Homo sapiens: one gene and its partners. The protein of the gene in region 3 interacts with the protein of the main gene of each other region in a biochemical or structural test. Each region holds a gene or a part of one and is shown on either strand. Other genes may lie near its edges.

Region 1 (7,110 bases), on a different chromosome or scaffold from region 3:
GATCTAGCTTCTAGACTGACCCCTCTCAAGAACAAAATACAGGGAGGGACTTGTTCTGGATTCCCTTTGGGCAAATGCAGCTGCAATACTCAGCAGGCTTGGCCTCAACTTCCAGGGCTTTTGTTTTTTTTCTTTTAAATGTATACTATTAAAGTTGGATTATTAATCTAATATTTGTGTTTGCCTTGGGGACTAATAAACCTCACAACCTGAGGATCACCTCAGTTAAACCAAGGCTTTGTCATCACAGAGCTACTCAGCAGAGGTCTGTCTCAGCTGTTCCTTGAACTAAGGAAGGAGTCAGTCAGCTAGGAGAGAAAAGTCCTTTTGAAAGCAGACAGCATCATGTACCTTGCTGACTCAGCTACATACATAAGGCCTCAAGCCTTGCTGCCAGTTCTTAAAGGAACTGTGTTCTCTTTTCACTTTTCCTGGCTTATGGGGCAGTAGAGGGTTTCCGACCTCAAATGCCAATACCAGGTAGGTAGAAGGACCTTAGGCTCAACTGCTGGCTCCTCGTAATAACACACACTGTATTCTGTGGTGGGTGCCACTCTGCTCTGCCTGTGTCATGTCACCTTTCCTAATCCAGCACATCCTCGCCCAAGAAAACCCTATTTTGGGGTCATTCATTCTATTCTTATTTCTCTCTTATTTGTTCTGATGTTTCAGTTGGACTTGATTCCACCGCAGGCTCTGGCTCCAGAGGAAGAGATGGGGGCTTTGTGAACTGGGATGTTCCTCCAGCACCTAGTAACAAAATAAAAACTTGAATCCTCATGTTCCACAATTTCAGAAGAAATCATTCTTTTTTGCTGTTAGAGTTCAAGAGGAAACCCCATATTTTCTGGAACCAGTGGGACTGACCCATTAACTATAAGGGAAGACTATAACTGAGAAATAAAGCAACAGTCAAGTTTGCCTTCAATGAGTCACTGAAAAATATTTACGTGTCAACTTCTGATAAAGCAGTAAAAATTAAACATTGCATAACAGGATATACTTAATAACATATTGCTAAAATTGGAAAGACCAGTGTATAGACCATCCAACTAAGTCTGTGAGTAGCTGTTACCTACTACATAGCTCGCCTTAAGGAAACAAGTGCCAATTTAGCCACCCTGTGTTTTTTTTCTCCCCTTGTGGCCAATACTACGTTGGACATATGAGTCTGAAGAGAACCTCACTGAAAGCTATAATCTCTGCTGACAGACACATGTGGCTTGTACCTGCCAGGTCTTCATGGAGCTCTGTATGGTCCTACCTGAGGGGAGCGTCCTGTATGCAGCTGCTGAAGACATTGCCTGTCCTAGAGCTTGATTAGAGCCCAGAGGCTGCTGGAAACTGGCAGGTTTGCTGGTTGAAGTGGTCTGGTGCTTTGATTTGGGATCTTTAACTGGTTTGGTCCAGACCAGTGCCTCCCCAACCTGGAGAGCAGCTCCCAACTTCTGAGCCATCTCCACCATCTTGTGTCCACAAAGGAAGTAAAAGAATCAAAAGCGTGACTGTCAGAGACAAGCCAACCCACTTCTTTGGTCTTCGAGCTGGGGTTTTAGCTGAAATAGTGTCTGGTCGTACTAGCAGTTGAGGCAGGAAGTACTTATCAAACAGTAGAGATTACAGATTGCCTTTACTGGATGGCATGGTGGTTCACATAGGATCTCAAAACCCAACAATTCAAGCCTGGTGCATTACCGGGCCAAACAGTGCATTTCCTACAACAAGTGAAATAGGGCTGGGCACGTGGATCACGAGGTCAAGAGATCAAGACCATCCTGGCCAACATGGTGAAACCCCGTCTCTACTAAAAATACAAAAATTAGCTGGGCGTGGTGGCACGCGCCTGTAGTCCCAGCTACTTGGAAGGCTGAGGCAGGAGAATTGCTTGAACCCAGGAGGCGGAGGTTGCAGTGAACTGAGATTGCGCCATTGCACTCCAGCCTGGGCAACAGAGCGAGATTCCGTCTCAAAAAAAAAAAAAAAAAAAAAGTGAAATAGAAGGAAGCTACAGACAGACACAGACCTCAACTTTGATGAGTTGAATTAGCAATAACAACTCAGTAAGCCTGAATTTCCTTTTATTATTATTCTAGGAAAGTTTTTCTCAGGCTGTTATTAATTGATGAACTCATGCTGCTAGGAACATCAAAGCCAGAACAGCCATGAACGTGTAATACCTTGGATTTGGATGATCTGGGCTTGATTTTTAAAAGTCTCCTGAGAGCTTACTTATGACTCTTGGGAGCTAATAAAAGACATACCTCAGAGTCAAATTCCAGAGAGCTATTGTCCTTGAGTAGGCTGACTTTCTTCTCCATCTCCTGATATTGGGCCAGGGCGTTCTTCTTCTCGCCCTGGTTGTACAGCAGCACAGCATAGTTCAGGTTTACTAAAGGGTTACACCTGTGGCAGACAGAGATTCTATGGAGCTGGGGGCTCTGCAACAAATGGTCATTTAGAGATCCTTCTCATTACACAAAAACAAAACAAAACTGGTTAAGTAGAGATTTCTCCATTATGCAGCAAGGTAGGTACATACGTGCTAAGCAGACCTGTGGAGAAGAATCAAGGAGTTAATGGCCTAACAAGCAAAGCTGGTATTGGGACCAAATCTGGCATCTCAGCCCTCAACAGAGACTACCTAGGCCAGGGTTGAAAAAGGGATCTCTACCCTGCTGTCTAGAAGATGCCAGCGGAGTAAATCCTGGAAGAGTCAAGTTTTATCTTGAATTAAACAGCCCAGAGTCCCATCTGATATTCCAGCTAGCCCATAGCTATCAGCAACCCAAGCCCACTGCCAGTTCTGACATTCTCTAGCCTCCTGATTACTCAGTTTAGGACTGGAAACATTTTCTCAGAGTGTCAATTCCTGCTGAGCCACCACATACTTAGGAGACACATCCCTCCACACTGAGGTCTGCTATGTACTAATGCCATAGAGGAACAGCTGGGCTGACACAGGCAGCACCAATGCTATGTATGGCACCACCTCATGGCTTTGGAGAGTCCAACCCCCGCCAGTACCATTCTCAACAAAGTGCATACTTATCCAGGTGGACTGCTTCTGCGTAGGCTCTCTTGGCATTTTCTATATCTTCCAGATTGGTCAGAGCCACTGCAACAAAGAAAGCACTGCAGCTGGAGAGCTCAGCTTAGAAGACAAAAGGAGTATTAAAGACTACCCCCAAAGTAAACTTCACCCTGTCAGCTCATGGCACCAGAGTTTACTAAGTCAGCTTAGATACCTGGTGCTATCTTCAACCATCTCTTCTACAGTCAATCAGTTGCCAGGTTCTATGCATCCTTTTTTTGCAGTTTCTTTTCTGACACTGCCCTTGTTCAGGCCCAAGTAGTTTTAGGCTTTCCATTTATTCCCCAGTGTCAAAGTCCCCACCTGCCTCCATTCCACCTTCCACAGCGCTGCCAGGTATCTCACTGCCTTACAAATCTGACCACATTACCATCCTACTTAGGAATCCTCACTGGCCCCCCACATCTATAACCATGATCTTTACACTTTCATTTAGCAGTAAAACACTCCCCCCACTTTTTAAAATCAGTATTTCCTTGACACCTAATATATAAAACAAAAACAGCTGCTCTGGAAGCCCTGCCCATTCCACCTCCCCACCAGCTATGCACTCACTCCTACCAGGCACCTAAGAGGAGATCTAGGAAGACAGCTGGACAAACATGGCCTCTAAGATAAAGTCCTTGCACTGTACGCATGACCTCCATAATCTGACCCCAGAATATCTTTCCTGATTCATCTCCCATCATATTCTCTAACACTAACCCCCACTAACAGCAAGGGACACTGCAGTTTCATGGCTGCATGCCTTTCTTCACAGTGGCTCCTCAGCCATTCTGTGCTATTCCATTTTAGCTTGTTGTTCAGGATCCAGTTTGAATGCCATCTCTACTTTGTAAAGTTAGCATCGCTGTTATCTCTTACATTATGGCTGTTTACATTTCTGTGTTCCATTAGAACCCAGCTATCTAAAGAAACTATCAACACAGTAAACAGACAATGTACAAAATGGGAGAAAATATTTGCAAACCATGCAGGTCTAATATCCAGGATCTATAAGGAACTTAAGCAAATTTACAAGAAGAATACAATCCCATTAAAATGGGCAAAGGACATAAACAGACACTTCAAAAGAAGTCATGTATGCAGCCAACAAGCATATGAAAAACTCTATCACTGATTAGAGAAATGCAAATTGAAACCACAGTGAGATAACCATCTCACACCAGTCAAAATGGCTATTATTAAAAACTCAAAATATAACATCCTGGTGAGGCTGCAGAGAAAAGGGAATGCTTATACACTGTTGATGGGAGTGTAAATTAGTTCAACCATTGTGGAAAGCAATCTGGCAATTCCCCAAAGAGCTAAAAATACAACTACCCTTCGACCCAGCAATCCCATTACTGGGTATATGCCCAAAGGAATGTAAATCGTTCTGCCATAAAGACACATGCATGTGTGTGTTCAATGCAGCACTATTCACAATAGCAAAGATGTGAAATCAACCTAAATGCCCATCAATGGTAGACTGGATAAACAAAATGTAAATGTACACCATGGAATACGACACAGCCATACAAAAGAACAAGATCGTGTCCTTTGCAGCAACATAGATGGAGCTGGAGGCCACCATCCTTAGCAAATTAATAAAGGATAGAAAACCAAATCCTGCATGTTCTCACTATAAGAGCTAAATGATGAGAACACATGGAGACACAGAGGGAAACAGACACTGGAGCTTACTGGAGGAGGGGGAGGGCCAGAAAAAAATAACTATTGGGTACTAGGCTTAGTACCTGGGTGATGAAATAATCTGTACAACTAATCCCCATGACACACGTGCCTGTGTAACAGGATGCACATGTACCCCTGAACCTAAAATAAAATTTTTAAAAAAAGAGAGAGGAATGGAGTCTCACTGTGTTGCCCAGGCTGTACTCCCAACTCCTGGGCTTAAGCAAACTTCCTGCCTTAGCCTCCCAAGTAGCCAGCACTACAGGTATGTACCATCACACCCCACTTTAGCCTTTTTATTCTGATGTTTTGACATCTGGGGCCTTACTGACCCTGGGGAGACTGTCCCTCCCACAGTCAGCTAATTCCTAGATATAACCCCTACAAGAGTACCTTCTGTATGCAGACCGACCAACCCAGTGTTCATATTCTTAACTGCCTCCTTTACTGGGCCCTGACACTGGGCCAATATTCCCTAGTCCTAGTCACCCGAGGGTCAGGTACCAGACACCTAGAGACAGCCCTATAGCCCAGAGCCCACTGAAATTATTCAAACTGGCCAATCCCCAACCTGGTTAACCTGCTTTCCCGGTCTTGCCCCGGGGAGGGCATTTCTACCCATGAAAACTACAATAAAGAATTGTGCCCACATTTACCCCTTGCTCCCTCTACCTCCTGATTGACCTGGTGCTTCCCCATGTGGCCCTGCACGGTGTAGCATGCCCTCCTTCTCAGGAATTGTAACAGACTATCTTTCCAGTGGCAGATGTCTTCTGATCTGTTGCCCATACCATATCTGAATAATAATAAAACCTATGTTTTTTTTTTAAAGTTATCTTTGTATTCAGGCAACCCTCAAATAACCACAATTGCTTTTGCAAGCTTTCTCTTTTAAATAAGAACCCACAGTAATGAACAAAAAGCCACTGGAAGACGACTGCCAAATGAGGACATGGAAATCTGCTTTGGGTCTTACATTTAGTAAGTAAATGTATATGGAGAAAAAAATTCCTAGAAAGACTAGTCAGTACTTTAAAATGGTTGTGCATAATTGTTAAAGTGTTTGATTAATTTTAACTTATTTTTATGATCAATTTTAGTATTTGCATGGCATAAAATGGAGTTTCAGGAAGAGAATGGCATTCTATATAACATGCTCAGAAGAGATAAGGGTTTCAACATAAGGTAGCTTGACTTGGAAGTATCACCTAGGGGCCAATTATAGTAACAACAATATTGATAATAATAGACCAATTATATAACCACAGTAAAACCAACAGTTTTCAAAAATCAGTATTTCAACAAAACCAGTATTATTAATTGAGAGCTTAATCATGCAATCCTCACATCAGCCCTAGGTACATATAATAAGTAGTAGAGGCAGGACCCTACCTAAAACCCAAGCTCTTAACACTTGCTGTCTGGAACTTAGTTGGACTCAATATATACATAAATGAATTGTCAAGGCAAGAGGAAAAAACTGGTAAAAGGTGAACTAGGGATGATCTTTATTTAACCTGTTGGTCTCTGAGTCAAACTCCCCCAAGTTAGAAACAACCAAGTTCCTTTGTCATCTTTTTCTATTTCTTCAAGCTCCAGGACAGTAATCCAGATTCCTACAGGATCTCTAAGGGAATGGCTCCTATGAGACAGCCACTGATCTTCTATGATTCTAATCCATTTTTCCCTCATTACAGATGGCAGAGAGAGTTTTCCACATAAATGTTTCTTACCTGCCAAGAGCATGTAGAGCTCCCCCATCTTTGGCTGGAAGTTGATGGCCGCACTGAGAAAATGAAAAGCTGATGCATACTGCTGCATGGTCAAATGGACAAGGCCCAAATTATACAGAATCTTCCAATCAAAGGGTGCCAAGTAGTTGGCTCGTTTCAGGCAGCTGATGGCCTATGAGAGAGAAGGGGCACTCAATGAGAAGGGCAAGCTAAACAGACCCAATAACCACATGTAGAAATACAAACAAAGAACATGAGGGGACACTCACCGCCACATATTTCTTCTTGCCAAAGAAACACATTCCAATGTTATTCCAGAGTGGAGGACTTTCTGGAACAGCACAAGCCACAACTCTGTATTTGGTGAGGGCAACATCAAAGTCCCCGTGGGTCTGCATCATGCTGCCTGCTGCCAAGATGGCCTGAAAACATGGCACAGAGAAAGTCATTCAGTCATTCCCAAAAGGCTGTAGCAGTGGGGCAGCTTTCCTGAGTCTATACTCAGCAGGCCCATCAGCATAGATGGGACTGGAAAATTTCTTCCAGGGACATAAATATATCCAACCTATTGGGACAAATGTTCCTGAGGAATGTCCTTGCACTCTACAC
Region 2 (7,110 bases), on a different chromosome or scaffold from region 3:
ATCACAGTTTAATAAAATTTCCAAATAGATTCTCTCTTTCTCTCAATTTGTCTATTCTGAAATAGTAATCACCACTTTTATAGCTTCTCAACATTTAATTTTCCTCCAAGAAAATCCCTACCAAATTATATTAGAATCAAATGTCTAAAAAGTTCATTAGACGTGATATACTTCAAATGCAATAAATATATTATTTCTTGAAAAAAGTCAGATAAAAGATACAGTGGGAATTCAAAAAAGTTTAACACTAGAAATGATTCTAACTCAGAAATAAGCATATATATAAACATCACAGCAGCTTTAGAATCACCAGTTGTGTCAAGGGTAGATAAGTAAATACACACACGTACATACACATGAATGATACAGGCTCTATCACCTTTGAGAGACAAACATCAGAATATAAAAATAAGAATCATCAAGCTTAGAAAAATAACCACAATTTTTAAGTACTTCCTTCCCTAAAAATAGTTAGCTTTTAATTATAGTGAGTAACTGAAAACAATAGCACTGCTAACCCAAAAATCCTTTATGTCTGGCTTTATGATATAGAAAAATTGAGAGACGCAACGATTTATCTTCTTAATATGCAGGCAACATAACAAACTCCCAATAGTATATGCTTTTAAGAAAATTTTAGCAAAAGTAATTAACACATATCGAACATCCCAAATCTAAAAACCTGAAATCCAAAATGCTCTGAAATCTGTAACTTTTTTTTTTTTTTTTTTTTTTTTTTTGAGACGTAGTCTTGCTCTGTCACCCTGGCTGGAATGCAGAGGCATGATCTTAGCTCACTGCAAATCTGCCTCCTGGGTTCAGGTGATTCTCCTGCCTCAGCCTCCTGAGTAGCTGCAATTACAGGCGCCTGCCACCTCACCCAGCTAATTTTTGTATTTTTAGTAGAGACAGGGTTTCACCATGTTGGCCAGGCTGGTCTCGAACTCCTGACCTCATGTGATCTGCCCGCCTTGGCCTCCCAAAGTGCTGGGAGTACAGGCGTGAGCCACCATGCCCGGTCTATAACTTTTTCAAATGCCAACGTGATGCTCAAAAGAAATGCTCACTGGAGCATTTCAGATTTTGAATTTGGGATGCTCAACTGGTATGTACTCTGTGAATATTCCAAAATCTGAAAAAGTCCAAAATCCAAAAAACTGATCCAATACATTTCAGATATGGCATACTCAACCTGCACTGTGAAAGTTTTCTGTTTTGTTCTGAAATTTAAGAAGAAAAGTTTTAGGTAATAAAAGAACTTATGAACATCTAGAAACTTGAAGACATACCACAGTTATCTAGACCAACCTGGTAGTAGAAGAGGGTTGTCTTAGAACTTTAAAAGCATAGCAAAACAAAAGTAGTTCCATTAATCCATTAAAATTGATTTTAATGATTCCCTGAAAGTCTTTACATTCAGTATATTTGAAAATATGCAATTTAACTTATTACTCTAAAACTTACCTTTATATTCTGCACCCAATCTCAACATTAAACGCATAGGAAAAACCTTTGCCCAGGGAATCTCAAGCTTCTGGATAAGAATTCCACAAAGAAAAGGATTACTTGGTAATGAGAGATCATCAAGTTTCTGAAAAGTAGGTGTAATAAACAGGAATCCTCCGTGATCCTTGCTACTGAGAAAACTCTCAGTAAAGGTAATATTGTCCAAGTTTTCTATGTATTTTCCTGCAAATAAAATCATTAGTAAAAAGATTTTAAGTTGTTTTGTTATTGTTTTGAAGAAATGTTCTTAGTTTGTCCAAAATCCAAAAAACTGATCCAATACATATAAACTGTCCCAATATAAACTGTCTGAAGTTAAGACACTATAGATTTTTTTTCTTATTTCTGTTCTTGCAAAAGCATCTATTAAATACCTTCTGTACACAAAGCTCCCAGTTATTCCTAGATATTGGGGATTATGAACAAAAATTTGAAAATGTTTCCAACCTTCCAATTTTTCTCCTTACGGCATGGTCAAGTGAAAAATTATCAAATCTCCTAGTCTTGTACAGACAGTAAGGAAATTACATAGATACACTGAAAAATCAAGGAGGCAGGCCAGGCACAGTGGCTCATGCCTGTAATCCCAGCACTTTGGGAGACTGAGGCGGGCGGATCACTTGAGGTCAGAAGTTCTAGACCAGCCTGGCCAGCATGGTGAAACCTTGCCTCTACTAAAAATACAAAAATTAGCTGGGCATGATGGCATGTGCCTGTAATCCCAACTACCTGAGAGGCAGAGGCAGAAGAATCGCTTGAACCCGGGAAGCAGAGGTTGCAGTGAACCAAGATTGTGCCACTGCACTCCAGCCGGGGTGGAGACACTGTCTCAAAAAAAAAAAAAAAAAAAAAATGGATATAAGGATATATTTCCATTTTTAAAATACAAAAATCTGCATAGACACTAATCACATAAAATGCTAGTTTTAAGGAGACAAAATAATTATTAAGCTATTTTCAGAAATCAGCAATCTCTTCACAGAAATAAATCTTTAGTATAGCTAGCACAGCCAAAACCATAAATGCCTTTAACTAATTTATCCATTCCCCAGTCTGAACAGTTCAAAATAAAATGCCATACCTTTTAGAGCATCCTTATATATGGTGATAAATAGTCTGAAGATGTCCTTAGGAATAGTATCTTCATTTGGCAAACATAACAATAGAATAATAATTTCTGCCTGTCCCAAGCCATGCAATCCATTGGTTGAAAAGTACCAATATTTGTCTGAGGAATCTTAGATGATAAAAGAATATAACTATTAATGTCAACTTCTATTAGTCAAAAAACTAAGAACAATTGTTTTTGCATTTAACATAACTTTTCAAATTCCTTGTGTTCCCAAAGTTCTCCTTATGAAAACCTTAAATTGAATTGTATAAGATTTATATAAAGTAAGAAAAAGGATTATCATAGGGAGCCAATTAATAAATAACACTAAAATAAAAGATGCACTAAATGCTGAAATGTAGTGGATAAGAATTTAGTTTCAAATAGAATGAAAAGCTGACAGATACATTATGGAGTAGTGAGGATTATTAATTATTAATGATTACTTCCTTTTTAATTAGGTCACATGTCACTTACTTTAAAACTGTCTTTATTGCTACTAAATCAGGGTTCCTGCTTATTTCAGTTACCAAATTTCAATTTATCTAAAAGCCACAGGAAATATAGTCAATTGTATCATGAGTATCAAAATACAGCTCAGTTATATAAGCCCATGACCTTAACCTAAGATTGACAGGGATGCTAATAAAAATCTGTAAGCTCATGTTTCAAGTCCTACTGAACATAAATTTGCAAAATTTATTTACAGTCATATGTGGCTGAAAAACCAATATCCAATCCTGCTTATTTTTCACCATGGCCAGTCAAAATCTAACCTGAAGATGTAATTAATTCAGAAATCCTGCTTACCAATTAAGCAAATAAGGATAAATTATTACTTACAAAATATGAATTTGACATTCACGAGTAGATTAGCATTTAGGACAAATGTAACAGGATGAAAGCTTTCACCTTCAAGAAGCAAAATGATCTGCTCATGAGATGGATGTTCTTCTACTACAGGCACTAAATGATGAAAGTAATATATTAATCAGGATAAATATCCTGTTAAATATGCTTACAAATGAAAAAAACAAATTTATAAATCCACCAGTGGCCTGATCAAATTTAAAAACAGAAGCAAACATGTTTCATAAAATCAACACCCCAGACAACTGTTATATACTAATTTTTACCTCTTTCCATGTAAAGTTACTAATACTGTAATGCATATATTACATATAGTATATTTATACTGTTGATTAAACAGCAAATGTATATAATTTTAGCACCTTCAAAGTTTGAAGACAAACGTTTTTATAAAGTAGATTCCAGTTTGGTAAGCACTCCATTTATAATTTTTGATATTTACAAGTCTATGAAAGTAGTCTAGAGCCACGTTATATATGCTGCTTGTTACCACATGCCTATATCAGCTACTTGCTACCATATGCCTATATCAGTGACCAGGTAGCAAAAAAAAAAAGATCTTGACAATCAATAGAAAGATATGCATGGCATACAAAGAATAGGGCTTACTATATTTTTGCCACTACAGCTAGGTTCATGTAATGGCTCCCACTGACAGAACAGAAATCCAAAGCTTCATTCCTCTACATTATCACGCAGAGAACCGCCATTTCATATTGCAGAATGTGACATAATGCCTGGAGTGACAAGTGTCTATCCTAGAAACCACTCTGGGGTGGGGGTTAGCCATAGAATCTCCTGCTTGAAAAGGACCTTAGAAATCATCTAGGTTCTATTTACAAAGGAAACTGGGGCCCAAGGAGATTAACACACTACAAGTCATAGATGTAAAAAGTAGCAGACAAGGAACTAAAATTCCTAGCTTTGCCATCCAATCTAATGCTCTTTTCTTTAGGTATCATGCTCCTAAAAAAAAATAGTAATAATACAGTGTCAAAATTCTAATACAATGGAAATATTTCTTCGGGCTAAAAGTCTATGAGCTTCCCTCATAGACTTAATCATTCGAAATTAGTGGGCCAGATGTGATAAATGGATCATAAAAGTTCAAATATTTTTAGAATTTGTTTTTATATAATAAGACTTTCTGTAAACAAAAGTTACCAGCCTTAGTACATATTGCAACCAAACTAAGTTAAAAAAATACATTTCATATGTCACAGATAAAATTCATCAGTATATATTTTTAAATCTTTTTAAATTTAAATAACTGCTTCCCTACCTGATCCCTTTTCTCCAGATGCAACCAGAAGTGGGGGCAAACTGTCCTCATCATTAGGTAGAAGACTAATCTTATTGCAGACATACTTGTTAATATCACACAGTAACCTATAATCTGAAATACTAGCAATAGGTAAATTGCTGTTAACTAAGACACCAGTAGGACTAGATGGTTCTTCAGTTTCTGCAAAAACATCATCATCTAGTGTAAATGAACCAGAAGTAGGTAACCCCTCATTTCCTGTGTTCATAGACAATTTTTCCACTGATGGAACCTGAGAAATAGGACTCTGAATTATCTCATTTCTTGTAATATCTCCTGTCTCATTGTTTGGCTTTTCCACTGTAGTAGAATGGGAATGATCCACTGTGTTTACTGTCTGTAAAATATGTAATAAAAAAAATAACAAATCAGTTCATATTCTCTGTTCAACTATGAAATGAGATCACTATAGCCAAACATATCTTTTTAATAAGAATAAATAAAAACCAAAATGCGTTCAGAAATTCTCTTAAAGTCAAATTTCCCAAGAAACAGTACCATTTTGATTCTTCAAATTCAGGAGCATAAGGAATTAAGAAGCATAAGGTTTTAGTTTTACTGCATGCTCAGGCAGGTATTAATGACTTAATATTAAGATTGGAAAAAATGAGGCAAGAAGAACTTCAAGATCCCATACCATATCACACAGTGAGCAAGCTTAGTTCAATCCAAGTCTCTCCCCTTCTTATGATAGCCAAAAACCCTTGGGTAGGCAGGGAGGAGGGACAAGGCAGGAAGAAGGGGAGGGGAGTGGTTAGGAAGCAGTGCGTTAGCTATATTCCACAAGAGTAACCACCTGGAAAAAACTACCCATAAAGACTATTTCAATAAAGCCTTTTTCTTTTTAGACTGTACAAAGTCAGTATTAAATAAGAACCATTTATGAACTCAATATTTACTAGCCTGTTGAGAATTTTCATTAATACAGATTGACAGTGCGTGCTAGCTAGGAAACATACCCATGGTAATTACGGCTATTTGTAAAGTCTAGCTCATGAACTCTTGACAAACAGCATATGTTTCTACCAAATGTAAATTTCAACAGAGCTGATAAATATTCATCTTTTCTCTCTTTTTTTTTTTTTTTTTTTTTTTTGAGATGGAGTCTCACCCTGTTGTCCAGGCTGCAGTACATTGGCGCAATCCTGGCTCACTGCAACCTCTGCCTCCTGGGTTCAAGTGATTTTCTCCTGCCTCCGTCTCCCCTAGTAGCTGAGACTACAGGCATGCGCCACAATACCTGGCTAATTTTTGTATTTTTTTTAGTAGAGACGGGGTTTTGCCATGTTGGTCAGGCGGTCTTGAACTCCTGACCTCAGATGATCCGCCCACCTCGGCCTCCCAAAGTGCTGGGATTACAGGCATGAGCCACCGCGCCAGGCCTAGTATCCATCTTTTCTAATATACGTACCCAGAATCGACCAGGTGACTGGCACAAAGTGATGCTCAATAAATCTATTTAATGCATAAAACATTACTAATTCATACATTAATAGTTGCTTCTATGAGTATGTGCCACTTTACAATGAGAATTCTTAGTGATCTGGATTCTATATTATATATCTTCTGTTTAACACCTAGCACATTTGTGTAAATGTAAGCATAAATATCACCATCACATACTTTCTTGAATGTTTGAAAATAACTAAATAGATATTAGTATAAATTAAATTACTAAATCTCAGTTACATTTCCCCATACCACTGGTTCTCAAAATGTGGTTCAGAGATCCCTGGGGTCCCCAAGACACTTTCAGGGAATTGGTGAGGTCCTAGAATTTTTTTCATATAATTTAACAAAAAAAATAACATATCAAAACACACAGAATGTAGAACCAGATGTGAGAATATGTTTGTCTTCTATTAAGCCAGACATTAAAGAAATTGGCAAAAATGTAAAATAATGCCATTATTCTCACTAAACTTTTGTTCTGAAAAAAATTTTTCATAAAATATTATTTCTGCTAATGTAATAGCCTTATTTTGTAATTAGTTAATAAATATTTTTTAAATTTCTGAATTTTAATTTTAATATAGTAATTATCAATAGGTACAACCCACGAAATCTATAGCACTTTAGGGTTCTCAATAAGAGTATAAAGGGGTCCTGAAGCTGAAAGTGTGAGAACCAGTCTCTTAAACTGACATTTAAAAAAGGTAAAATCTGGGCCAGGCACGGTGGCTCACTCCTGTAATAACCAGCACTTTGGGAGGCCGAGATGGGCAGATAACTTGAGGTCAGGAGTTTGAGACCAGCCTGGCCAACACGGTGAAACCTCGTCTCTACTAAAAATACAAAA
Region 3 (7,110 bases):
GACGGTTCTGACCCCAGGCTCGTTTACCTGTTCCGGGGTTGGTGCTATGGGCGTGTCACCGGAGAGTATGGGCGGGGCGGGCAGAGGGGCAGCATGCTGGCCAGAGTCCTCTTGCTGGCTGGAGTCAGTGCCCACAGAATCCTGTCCTGATTGTGTCTCTGAGTTGAACACGGTCTAGTGGGAGGAAAACAGGATCAGTGAGGGCTCCTGGGAACATCAAGAGCCCAGGAAGTCAGGGGCCAGCCTGGTGATGTCTCTGGGGATGAGTCCTGCCTCCCTTCCCTTGGTTCCCGGTACGGCAGTTCTCTCACCCTCTGGGGTGTGTGGATGGGTGACAGCATGTCCAGGTCAGTCATGGGGAACTCCAGGCCTTTCCTCCGCAGGTCCTCATAGATGGTGACCACACCTGTCAGATCGGGCGAGCTGCGGAACGCGTCAGCCCAGGACTGAGAGGGGACAAGGGGACACAGCCGGTAACCACAGCTCACCTGTGAGCCTGCCCACCTGGCACTCAGACAGAGAACAGACATTCTTTCCCTGCTTTTTTTTTTTTTTTAACTACATCTGCCCTGCCCACTCCACAGCAAAGCACGCAGTTGGCAAGCCTCCCTCCCCACAGAACATCCCACCAGCCGACAACCGAGACGCCCCGAAATGAGAAGCGGAGCCTGGGACAAACACGATGGCCTCGACTCTCCACTGGGCAGGAAGCTCCTGCACTGACAGCTCTTCCTGGCCGTGCCCTGCCCTGTCCTGGCACTCACCTGGATGAGGTTGAGCACTTTGTCATGCACGATGGTGGGTGGGTTGTTCTTGGGCAGGATGGTCCTCACCAGCACACTCTCCACGAAGTCCTGGCTGGCCACCAGCACGTGGAAGCGGTGCCCGCAGTTCTTGACACAGGTTTCTAAGACCTGGAGGGCCGAGAGGTGCCGTCGAGCACCTTGGTCAGAGGAGAGGAGGTGCTCAGAACCCCCACCCTCGTGGCTCCTCCTGTGTCCCAGAGAGGAGGCCCGGGAGAGGAGATGGGACTTCCTGGAGTGAGACCCTTGAATGTGGAGGACTGGGACAATGCCAGGACTGGGGGACTTGTTTACTGGAGGGCACGGCCTAGGGTGGGCAGAGGTATGGTGTGTGGGCTGGACTTCCTTCCCTGACTGGCGTCAGTGCACGCAGAATCCCAATGCTGTCTCTGAGCTAAACATGGTCTAGAGAGAAGGGGCTCTCCAAGAGGAAATCAAGGAGCATCTGAGATGTCAATCGACTGGTGAGCCTGTGGCCCAGGGAAAAGGCACTGAACTTCCCTCCCCACTCTCCACTTCCCACTGCAGGAATTGCCTTTGCTTTTTGCTTAAGCCAATTCACCTGGATATAAATGCTGCTTGTGGAGGAGGGTGGGACAGCATTTATATCTTCCCCAGCCAAACCCATGCTGACGGCTAGGAGGCCCACGTGTGTCTGGCCGCCCTGAGATCTGGGCTGGTTCAGTGGTGTGGGCAAGACTGTTCTCAGCCACTGGTATTTATTTTACATTCATTTGCCAGAGCACCAAAGTGCCGAGCAGCACCCAACTCAGTCAGCCGGCCTCCCTGCCCCCGCGGAGGCCTGGGTTTACTGAGCTTCAATGTCACCCACAGGTCCTTTGGCCCAGGCTCTCCCTGCCAGTGGTTCTGGAGTGATGTAAGCGTCTGTTCCCATGCTGGGGGATTGGGGAGAACCTTTCCAAATGGCCTCTTGCCATTCTGCATCCGCCTGCAGTGTAGACAGGACAGTGCGTTGCCTACAGACCTTTCCAGCTCTCAAATGAGGAGCTCAGAGGAGGCTGGGAGTCCTGCTGGGTCTGAGGGGAGGTGACTTTCAGTGGACCGTAGTCCTGCCACAGGACAGACAGATGGGGCACTCACTGTGAGAGCCAGCATCACCTCGTGGAAGTTCTTATTCCCCACGATTCTCTTCTTTACTGCTCGGAGGGCATCTTTGGGACTAAGGAGGACAAGAAAAAGGGTGGGCTTAGGAATAGAGCCCCCTTACCTAACACCAGAGACCCTGGAGAGTTGGAACAGTTCTTATTGGCCCATCCTCCCTGTGCCCCACCTGTTTTGTGTATCCAGCCAGGTTCTGATCACATCAGAATCTTCCTAGCCCATTGCTTAGCAGGGACTCACAACCTGTGGCCCCTGGACCTCCAGCAGCAGAGTCACTTTGAGAAAAGATGAGAGCGTTTTGTTAAAAGTGCAGAACCTGGCCGGGCGCGGTGGCTCATGCCTGTAATCCCAGGACTTTGGGAGGCTGAGGCAGGTGGATCACTTGAGGCCAGGAGTTCAAGACCAGCCTGGCCAACATGGTGAAACCCTGTCTCTACTAAAAATACAAAAATTTGCCGGGCGTGGTGGTATGACCCTGTAATCCCAGCTACTTGGGAGGTTGAGGCGGGAGAATCGCTTGAACCCAGGAGGCAGAGGTTGCAGTGAGCCGAGATTACGCCACTGTACTCCAGCCTGGGCAACAGAGTGAGAGCCGAGATTGCGCCACTGTACTCCAGCCTGGGCGACAGAGTGAGACCCTGTCTCAAAAAAACAAAGGACATTCAAAAAAAAAAAGCAGAACCCTAGGTCCCCACCCTAGACCACCTGAACCAAATTCTCAGGGAGTGGGGCCCCTGAATCTGAATGCTTCTCATGCTCCCCAAGGGTTTCTTATGCATGCTCAAGTTTAAGAACAAATAACCTGGAGGCATAATGTTTTCATTACAAAAATAGAGATGGGGTCTTGCTATGTTGCCCAGGCTGGTCTCAAACTCCTGGGCTCAAATGATTCTCCCACCTCGGCCTCCCAATATGTTGTGATTACAGGCATGAGTCCCTGAGCCCAGCTAGCATAGTGTTCTGATGCCCCGTCCTGGCCAGCTGCTCTATCTGTCCATTTACCCTTCCATTCAAGTTTTTTTTTTTTTTCCTTCTGAGACAGAGTCTCACTCTGTCGCCCAGGCTGGAGTGCAGTGGTGCAATCACAGCTCGCTGTAGCCCGGAACTCCTGGGCTCAAGTGATCCTCCTGCCTCAGCCTCCCAAAACGCTGAGACTACCAGTGTGAGCCACCATGTCTGGCCCATTCAACTCTTATTAAGCACCCAATATGTATGTAGCACCATGCTAGGTGCTGGGGACACAGTGGCAAACAAGACCATATGGCCCTGCCTCCTCCCCACCTTGCGGGGAGATCCAAAGAAGAGCAAGGAATAAGCAGGTCCTGGAAAAAGAGCAGAGGTGAGGATGGGGGTGGTCAGAAAAGACCTCCGAGGGGGTGGTCTTGTAGTTGGGCCTTGAAAGATGGGAAGGACCACCTGGGGGGAGTGGGGGCAGAGCAGTTTGGGTCAAGGTCAGAGCCTGGACCAAGGTCTTGGGTGCAGAGGAGCTTGATGCCTTGGAGGAACTAAGAGGAGGCCACACTGAGTGTGGGGGAGGTCGGGGAGGGCTGAAGAAGCCTAGGGGTCACGGTGTTGGGAGGCCCCTGGAAGCTGGGGTGCCAGCCTGCTCTCCCTGTCCCCTCTGTGATTCCCACCATCCTCCACCCTCGGCCCTATACAGGTATACTCAGTGCTGCCCTGACTGCTCTTGTCTAAAAGCCTTTGTGCAGGGCCCCCACTTGCACCCTGAAGGCTCCTGACCTCCACATCCATGAGGTGAAGCCTCAGCTAAAATCCACCCCTTCCACAACACTTTCCCAGGTCCTCCAGTCTCCCTGGCCTGTTCTGCCATGCCACATTGAACTGGGGGCCCACCCTGGGTAGAGAAGAAGCTTGCTAGAGGGCAGGGATGGTGTTCTCTTTGGACAGCTTCCCTTCCTAGAGCCCATCACACTACTGAAGCACAAGTAACATTTCTCAGCCTGGCCAGTGGCCACTGGGACCCATCCGGCTGTCTGCCTGGCTGTCAGTGCTGACCCCATCCAGGACTAAGGCAGGAGAGCCTGGAACCCTGGCACTGGTTCTCAGCAGGAGTGAAGGCAGAGGCAAGGCTTCCTAGGGACAGAGCCTGCCTGGGGGCTAGAGCTATGGAGGCGGTCAGGCCTGCGGTGGAAGGGACACGGTGGGGAAAGGGATGGTGGCCCACCAAGGGGGGTCCTGGCCCAGAAGCCTGAGAGCAGTTTCCAACCCTTGCCTCCCTGGGCAGCCCCTCGCCCGTCCCTGGCTCCTGGTCTTGGCCTGGCCACTGACCCACGGGCTACTTCAGCGCTTTATAGTGACTTCTTTCCACCTCTTCTAGGGTGGCCTAGACACAAGGGAATCAGAATCATTCCCTGGCATGTTCCGCCATGCGCCACTGACCTGGGGGCCCACCCTGGGAGAGAAGAAGCCTCCTAGAGCGCAGGGACAGCGTCCTTGTTGGACGCCTTCTCTCCCTAGAGGGAAGCACTGGGAATCGGAAGTTCTGGCCTTGCCACTGCTGTGGGCCCATGATGTCCGGTACTCTGCTGGGAGCACAAAGTGTATGACAAGGAGGCCACAACCCAGTGGGGGAGACACTTTAGCAACGAGGCTAAGTTTAGGTGCCATGCTTGGTGAGGTCAAGGGTCATGCCTGCCTTTGATCACTGCTGGGTCCCTAGTGCCTCCTGTGTTGCCTGGAACACACAAAGTGCTCAAATAAATAGCAATGCACCTGACCGACGCCGAGCCTGTTCCTCCCATGTTTATAAGGGACATGGGGGCTTGCTGTCCCCAAGGATACTGCAGTGACTTGCAGCTGCGACGTCCATGAAGCTCCCAGGCCTGTCTAGAGGCTTGGTGAGGTTTTCTGCCTCCTGCTTTCTTTCTTCTGACCTCTGCCCACCACTCCTTCCCTCACCCTCACTCTCATGAGTCCTTGGCAAGATCAGGGAGCAGGGCTGAGGAAGACACCGGCAGGTTCCTGGCAGCCACTGCCCTCTCCTGACTGGGCCTTGACTGTGTGACTCAGATGCCCACAGCCTCCCTCCAGCTCAGAGCTGGGCACTCCCTGCCCTCCACCTGCATCCAGCCTGCGCCTCTCCACGCAAAGCCCTCCCGGGCTGAGAGGAACCCTGCACTGGCCGCGGGAGAGCTGGATGATCCCAGTGAGAACTGGAGAGGGAAAGGAGGGTCCACACTGATTTCTCAGGATGGAGGCCTCGTCTGGCAGCACTTCCTGCTGCCCACGGCTCCCACACCTCTGCCCAGCCTTCGCTGGGTTTTCCTGAGAGGACAGGGACCCTCGCATCCCCTTTCTGCTCCCTCCAGGGACTCGGGCTTATTGCTGGAAGGATCTAACAGAGCACCTTCGAGGACAAAGACCTAGAGAGGTAAAGTGACTTCCGAAGGTCACACGGCTGGTCAGTGACAACGAGTCAGACATTGGAGGCCAAGACCCCAATCCTTCCCCCACACCATGTGCCTTGGCAGGGCTCCTTGGCACTGAGCAAGACGATACCGTGACCCCAACACCAGAAACGCCCGGCAAACGCCAGTGCTGTTCAGGCTCACGGTTCAGCTTCACTTTCCCTGCCATCCTTGTGATCTCCCTTACCCTCCAGGCTGGTTTCAAATCTTAAGGAAATGGAAGTCTGTTTTTGCTCGCAGAAAAGCCGGAGTCTCTCTAGTACACACTCCCGCCTGCAGAATGCAGATGGCGCTTGGGGTCAACTTCTGATTAAGAGTCTCCAGCTTGCCTCATCCTAGGCAGATGCTGCACACAAGGCTGGGCTTCCAGATCCGTGTGGAATCTGGGCTGCCACTAAGAGAGGCGGGGTGGGGTGGCAGCCCCCAGGGGCCAGCTGTGAATTCCTACCTTGGATGGGGCTCAGGTACTAGGGGCTCAGATGGCCTCTGCAGCCAAGCGGGTTGGGTCAGACTTGGTGGCTATGGCAGCAATGGGGCTGGGGCAGGGGCTCCCTGGAAGGGTGCAGGAGTGTGCTGCGTGGTGGGATGGCCGTCTCTGCCCCCAACCTCTCCTTGGGGGGCCCTTACCCTTCCTCCGTCTCGTTGATGATGTCGCAGATCTCCATGTTGAGGGCCCAGTCCTCGCTCTGCAGGGAGCCATCTGTGGCTTTCTCTGAGAAGAAACCAGGAGTCATAAAGTCATGAGGGGGTCCTGAATGGGTAAACTCAAACCGTGGGTGGGAGAGGAGGGGGGTGCAGGGCCGGATGAGATGGGGAGGAGGAAGATGACAGACACTTCCTGGGCACAGGGCCTGGCCCTGTGTGAGACTGCTCTATACACATTGTCCCATCGTCACTAGATTCTTGTAGCCACTGAGGCCGGAGTACCTCTGCTCTTCAATGGATGAGGAAACCATGACTCTGAGTGCACCAAAGGGATGCACCAGAGGGGAATCTAGGTGGGCCTCCGTGTGCTTATTCCTGACATGACAATATGGAGACAGTGCTTTGCTTCATTTCTGTAGATAAGATGTTCTCCCTTGACTTTAGAATTATCTTTTGAGCTGGGCGCGGTGGCTCACGCCTGTAATCCCAGCACTTTGGGAGGCTGAGGTGGGTGGATCACCTGAGGTCAGGAGTTGAGACCAGCCTGACCAACATGGTGAAGCCCCGTCTTTACTAACTACAAAAAAGTAGCTGGGCATGGTGGCACATGCCTGTAATCCTGGCTACTTGGGAGGCTGAGGCAGGAGAATCGTTTGATCCCAGGAGGCGGAGGTTGCAAAGAGATTGAGCCATCACACTCCAGCCTGGACAACGAGAGCGAAACTCCATCTCCAAAACAAACAAACAAACAAGCAAAAAAGAATTATCTTTTGAGTTGGTAACCATTCACAGGATACAAAATGTAAAAGTTCTCAAGTGGTATACAATGGAGCTAGGTAAATCTATCTCTGTCCCCTGCCCCAGCCCCCTCTTCCTAGAGGCATCCCCTGTAACCAGGTTCCTCTAGAATCTCACAGAGAGCTTCTTTACCTAGGAAGCAAACGCTCCATTACTAACAGGTCACCTGGCCCTCCTGTACCCTTCTGAGGCACCCACAGAAGGGACCGATGCCGAGCCACCCAGCAGAACTACCCCAAAGAGAGGTGATGATTCATGCAAGGTACCAGCACAGTAAGGTATCAGCACGGCAAGGTATCAGCACGGTACGGGCC

What was found.
Region 1: the proteins of TOM1 (region 3) and BBS4 form a complex in vitro, tested with the Homo sapiens proteins (one study listed by BioGRID).
Region 2: the proteins of TOM1 (region 3) and ZFYVE16 form a complex in vitro, tested with the Homo sapiens proteins (one study listed by BioGRID).

What each region holds. Positions count from the first base shown.
Region 1 is NC_000015.10:72,731,118-72,738,227, reverse strand, and holds part of BBS4 (BBSome complex member BBS4), read right to left. Parts: intron 6,924-7,110; coding exon 6,771-6,923; intron 6,674-6,770; coding exon 6,502-6,673; intron 3,116-6,501; coding exon 3,046-3,115; intron 2,404-3,045; coding exon 2,262-2,403; intron 1,467-2,261; coding exon 1,265-1,466; intron 751-1,264; coding exon 641-750; 3' UTR 1-640.
Region 2 is NC_000005.10:80,446,064-80,453,173, reverse strand, and holds part of ZFYVE16 (zinc finger FYVE domain-containing protein 16), read right to left. Parts: intron 5,149-7,110; coding exon 4,770-5,148; intron 3,584-4,769; coding exon 3,461-3,583; intron 2,744-3,460; coding exon 2,588-2,743; intron 1,690-2,587; coding exon 1,465-1,689; intron 1-1,464.
Region 3 is NC_000022.11:35,316,832-35,323,941, reverse strand, and holds part of TOM1 (target of Myb1 membrane trafficking protein), read right to left. Parts: intron 6,066-7,110; coding exon 5,981-6,065; intron 2,201-5,980; exon of another isoform or gene 2,095-2,200; intron 1,984-2,094; coding exon 1,905-1,983; intron 944-1,904; exon of another isoform or gene 915-943; coding exon 765-914; intron 447-764; coding exon 312-446; intron 175-311; coding exon 28-174; intron 1-27.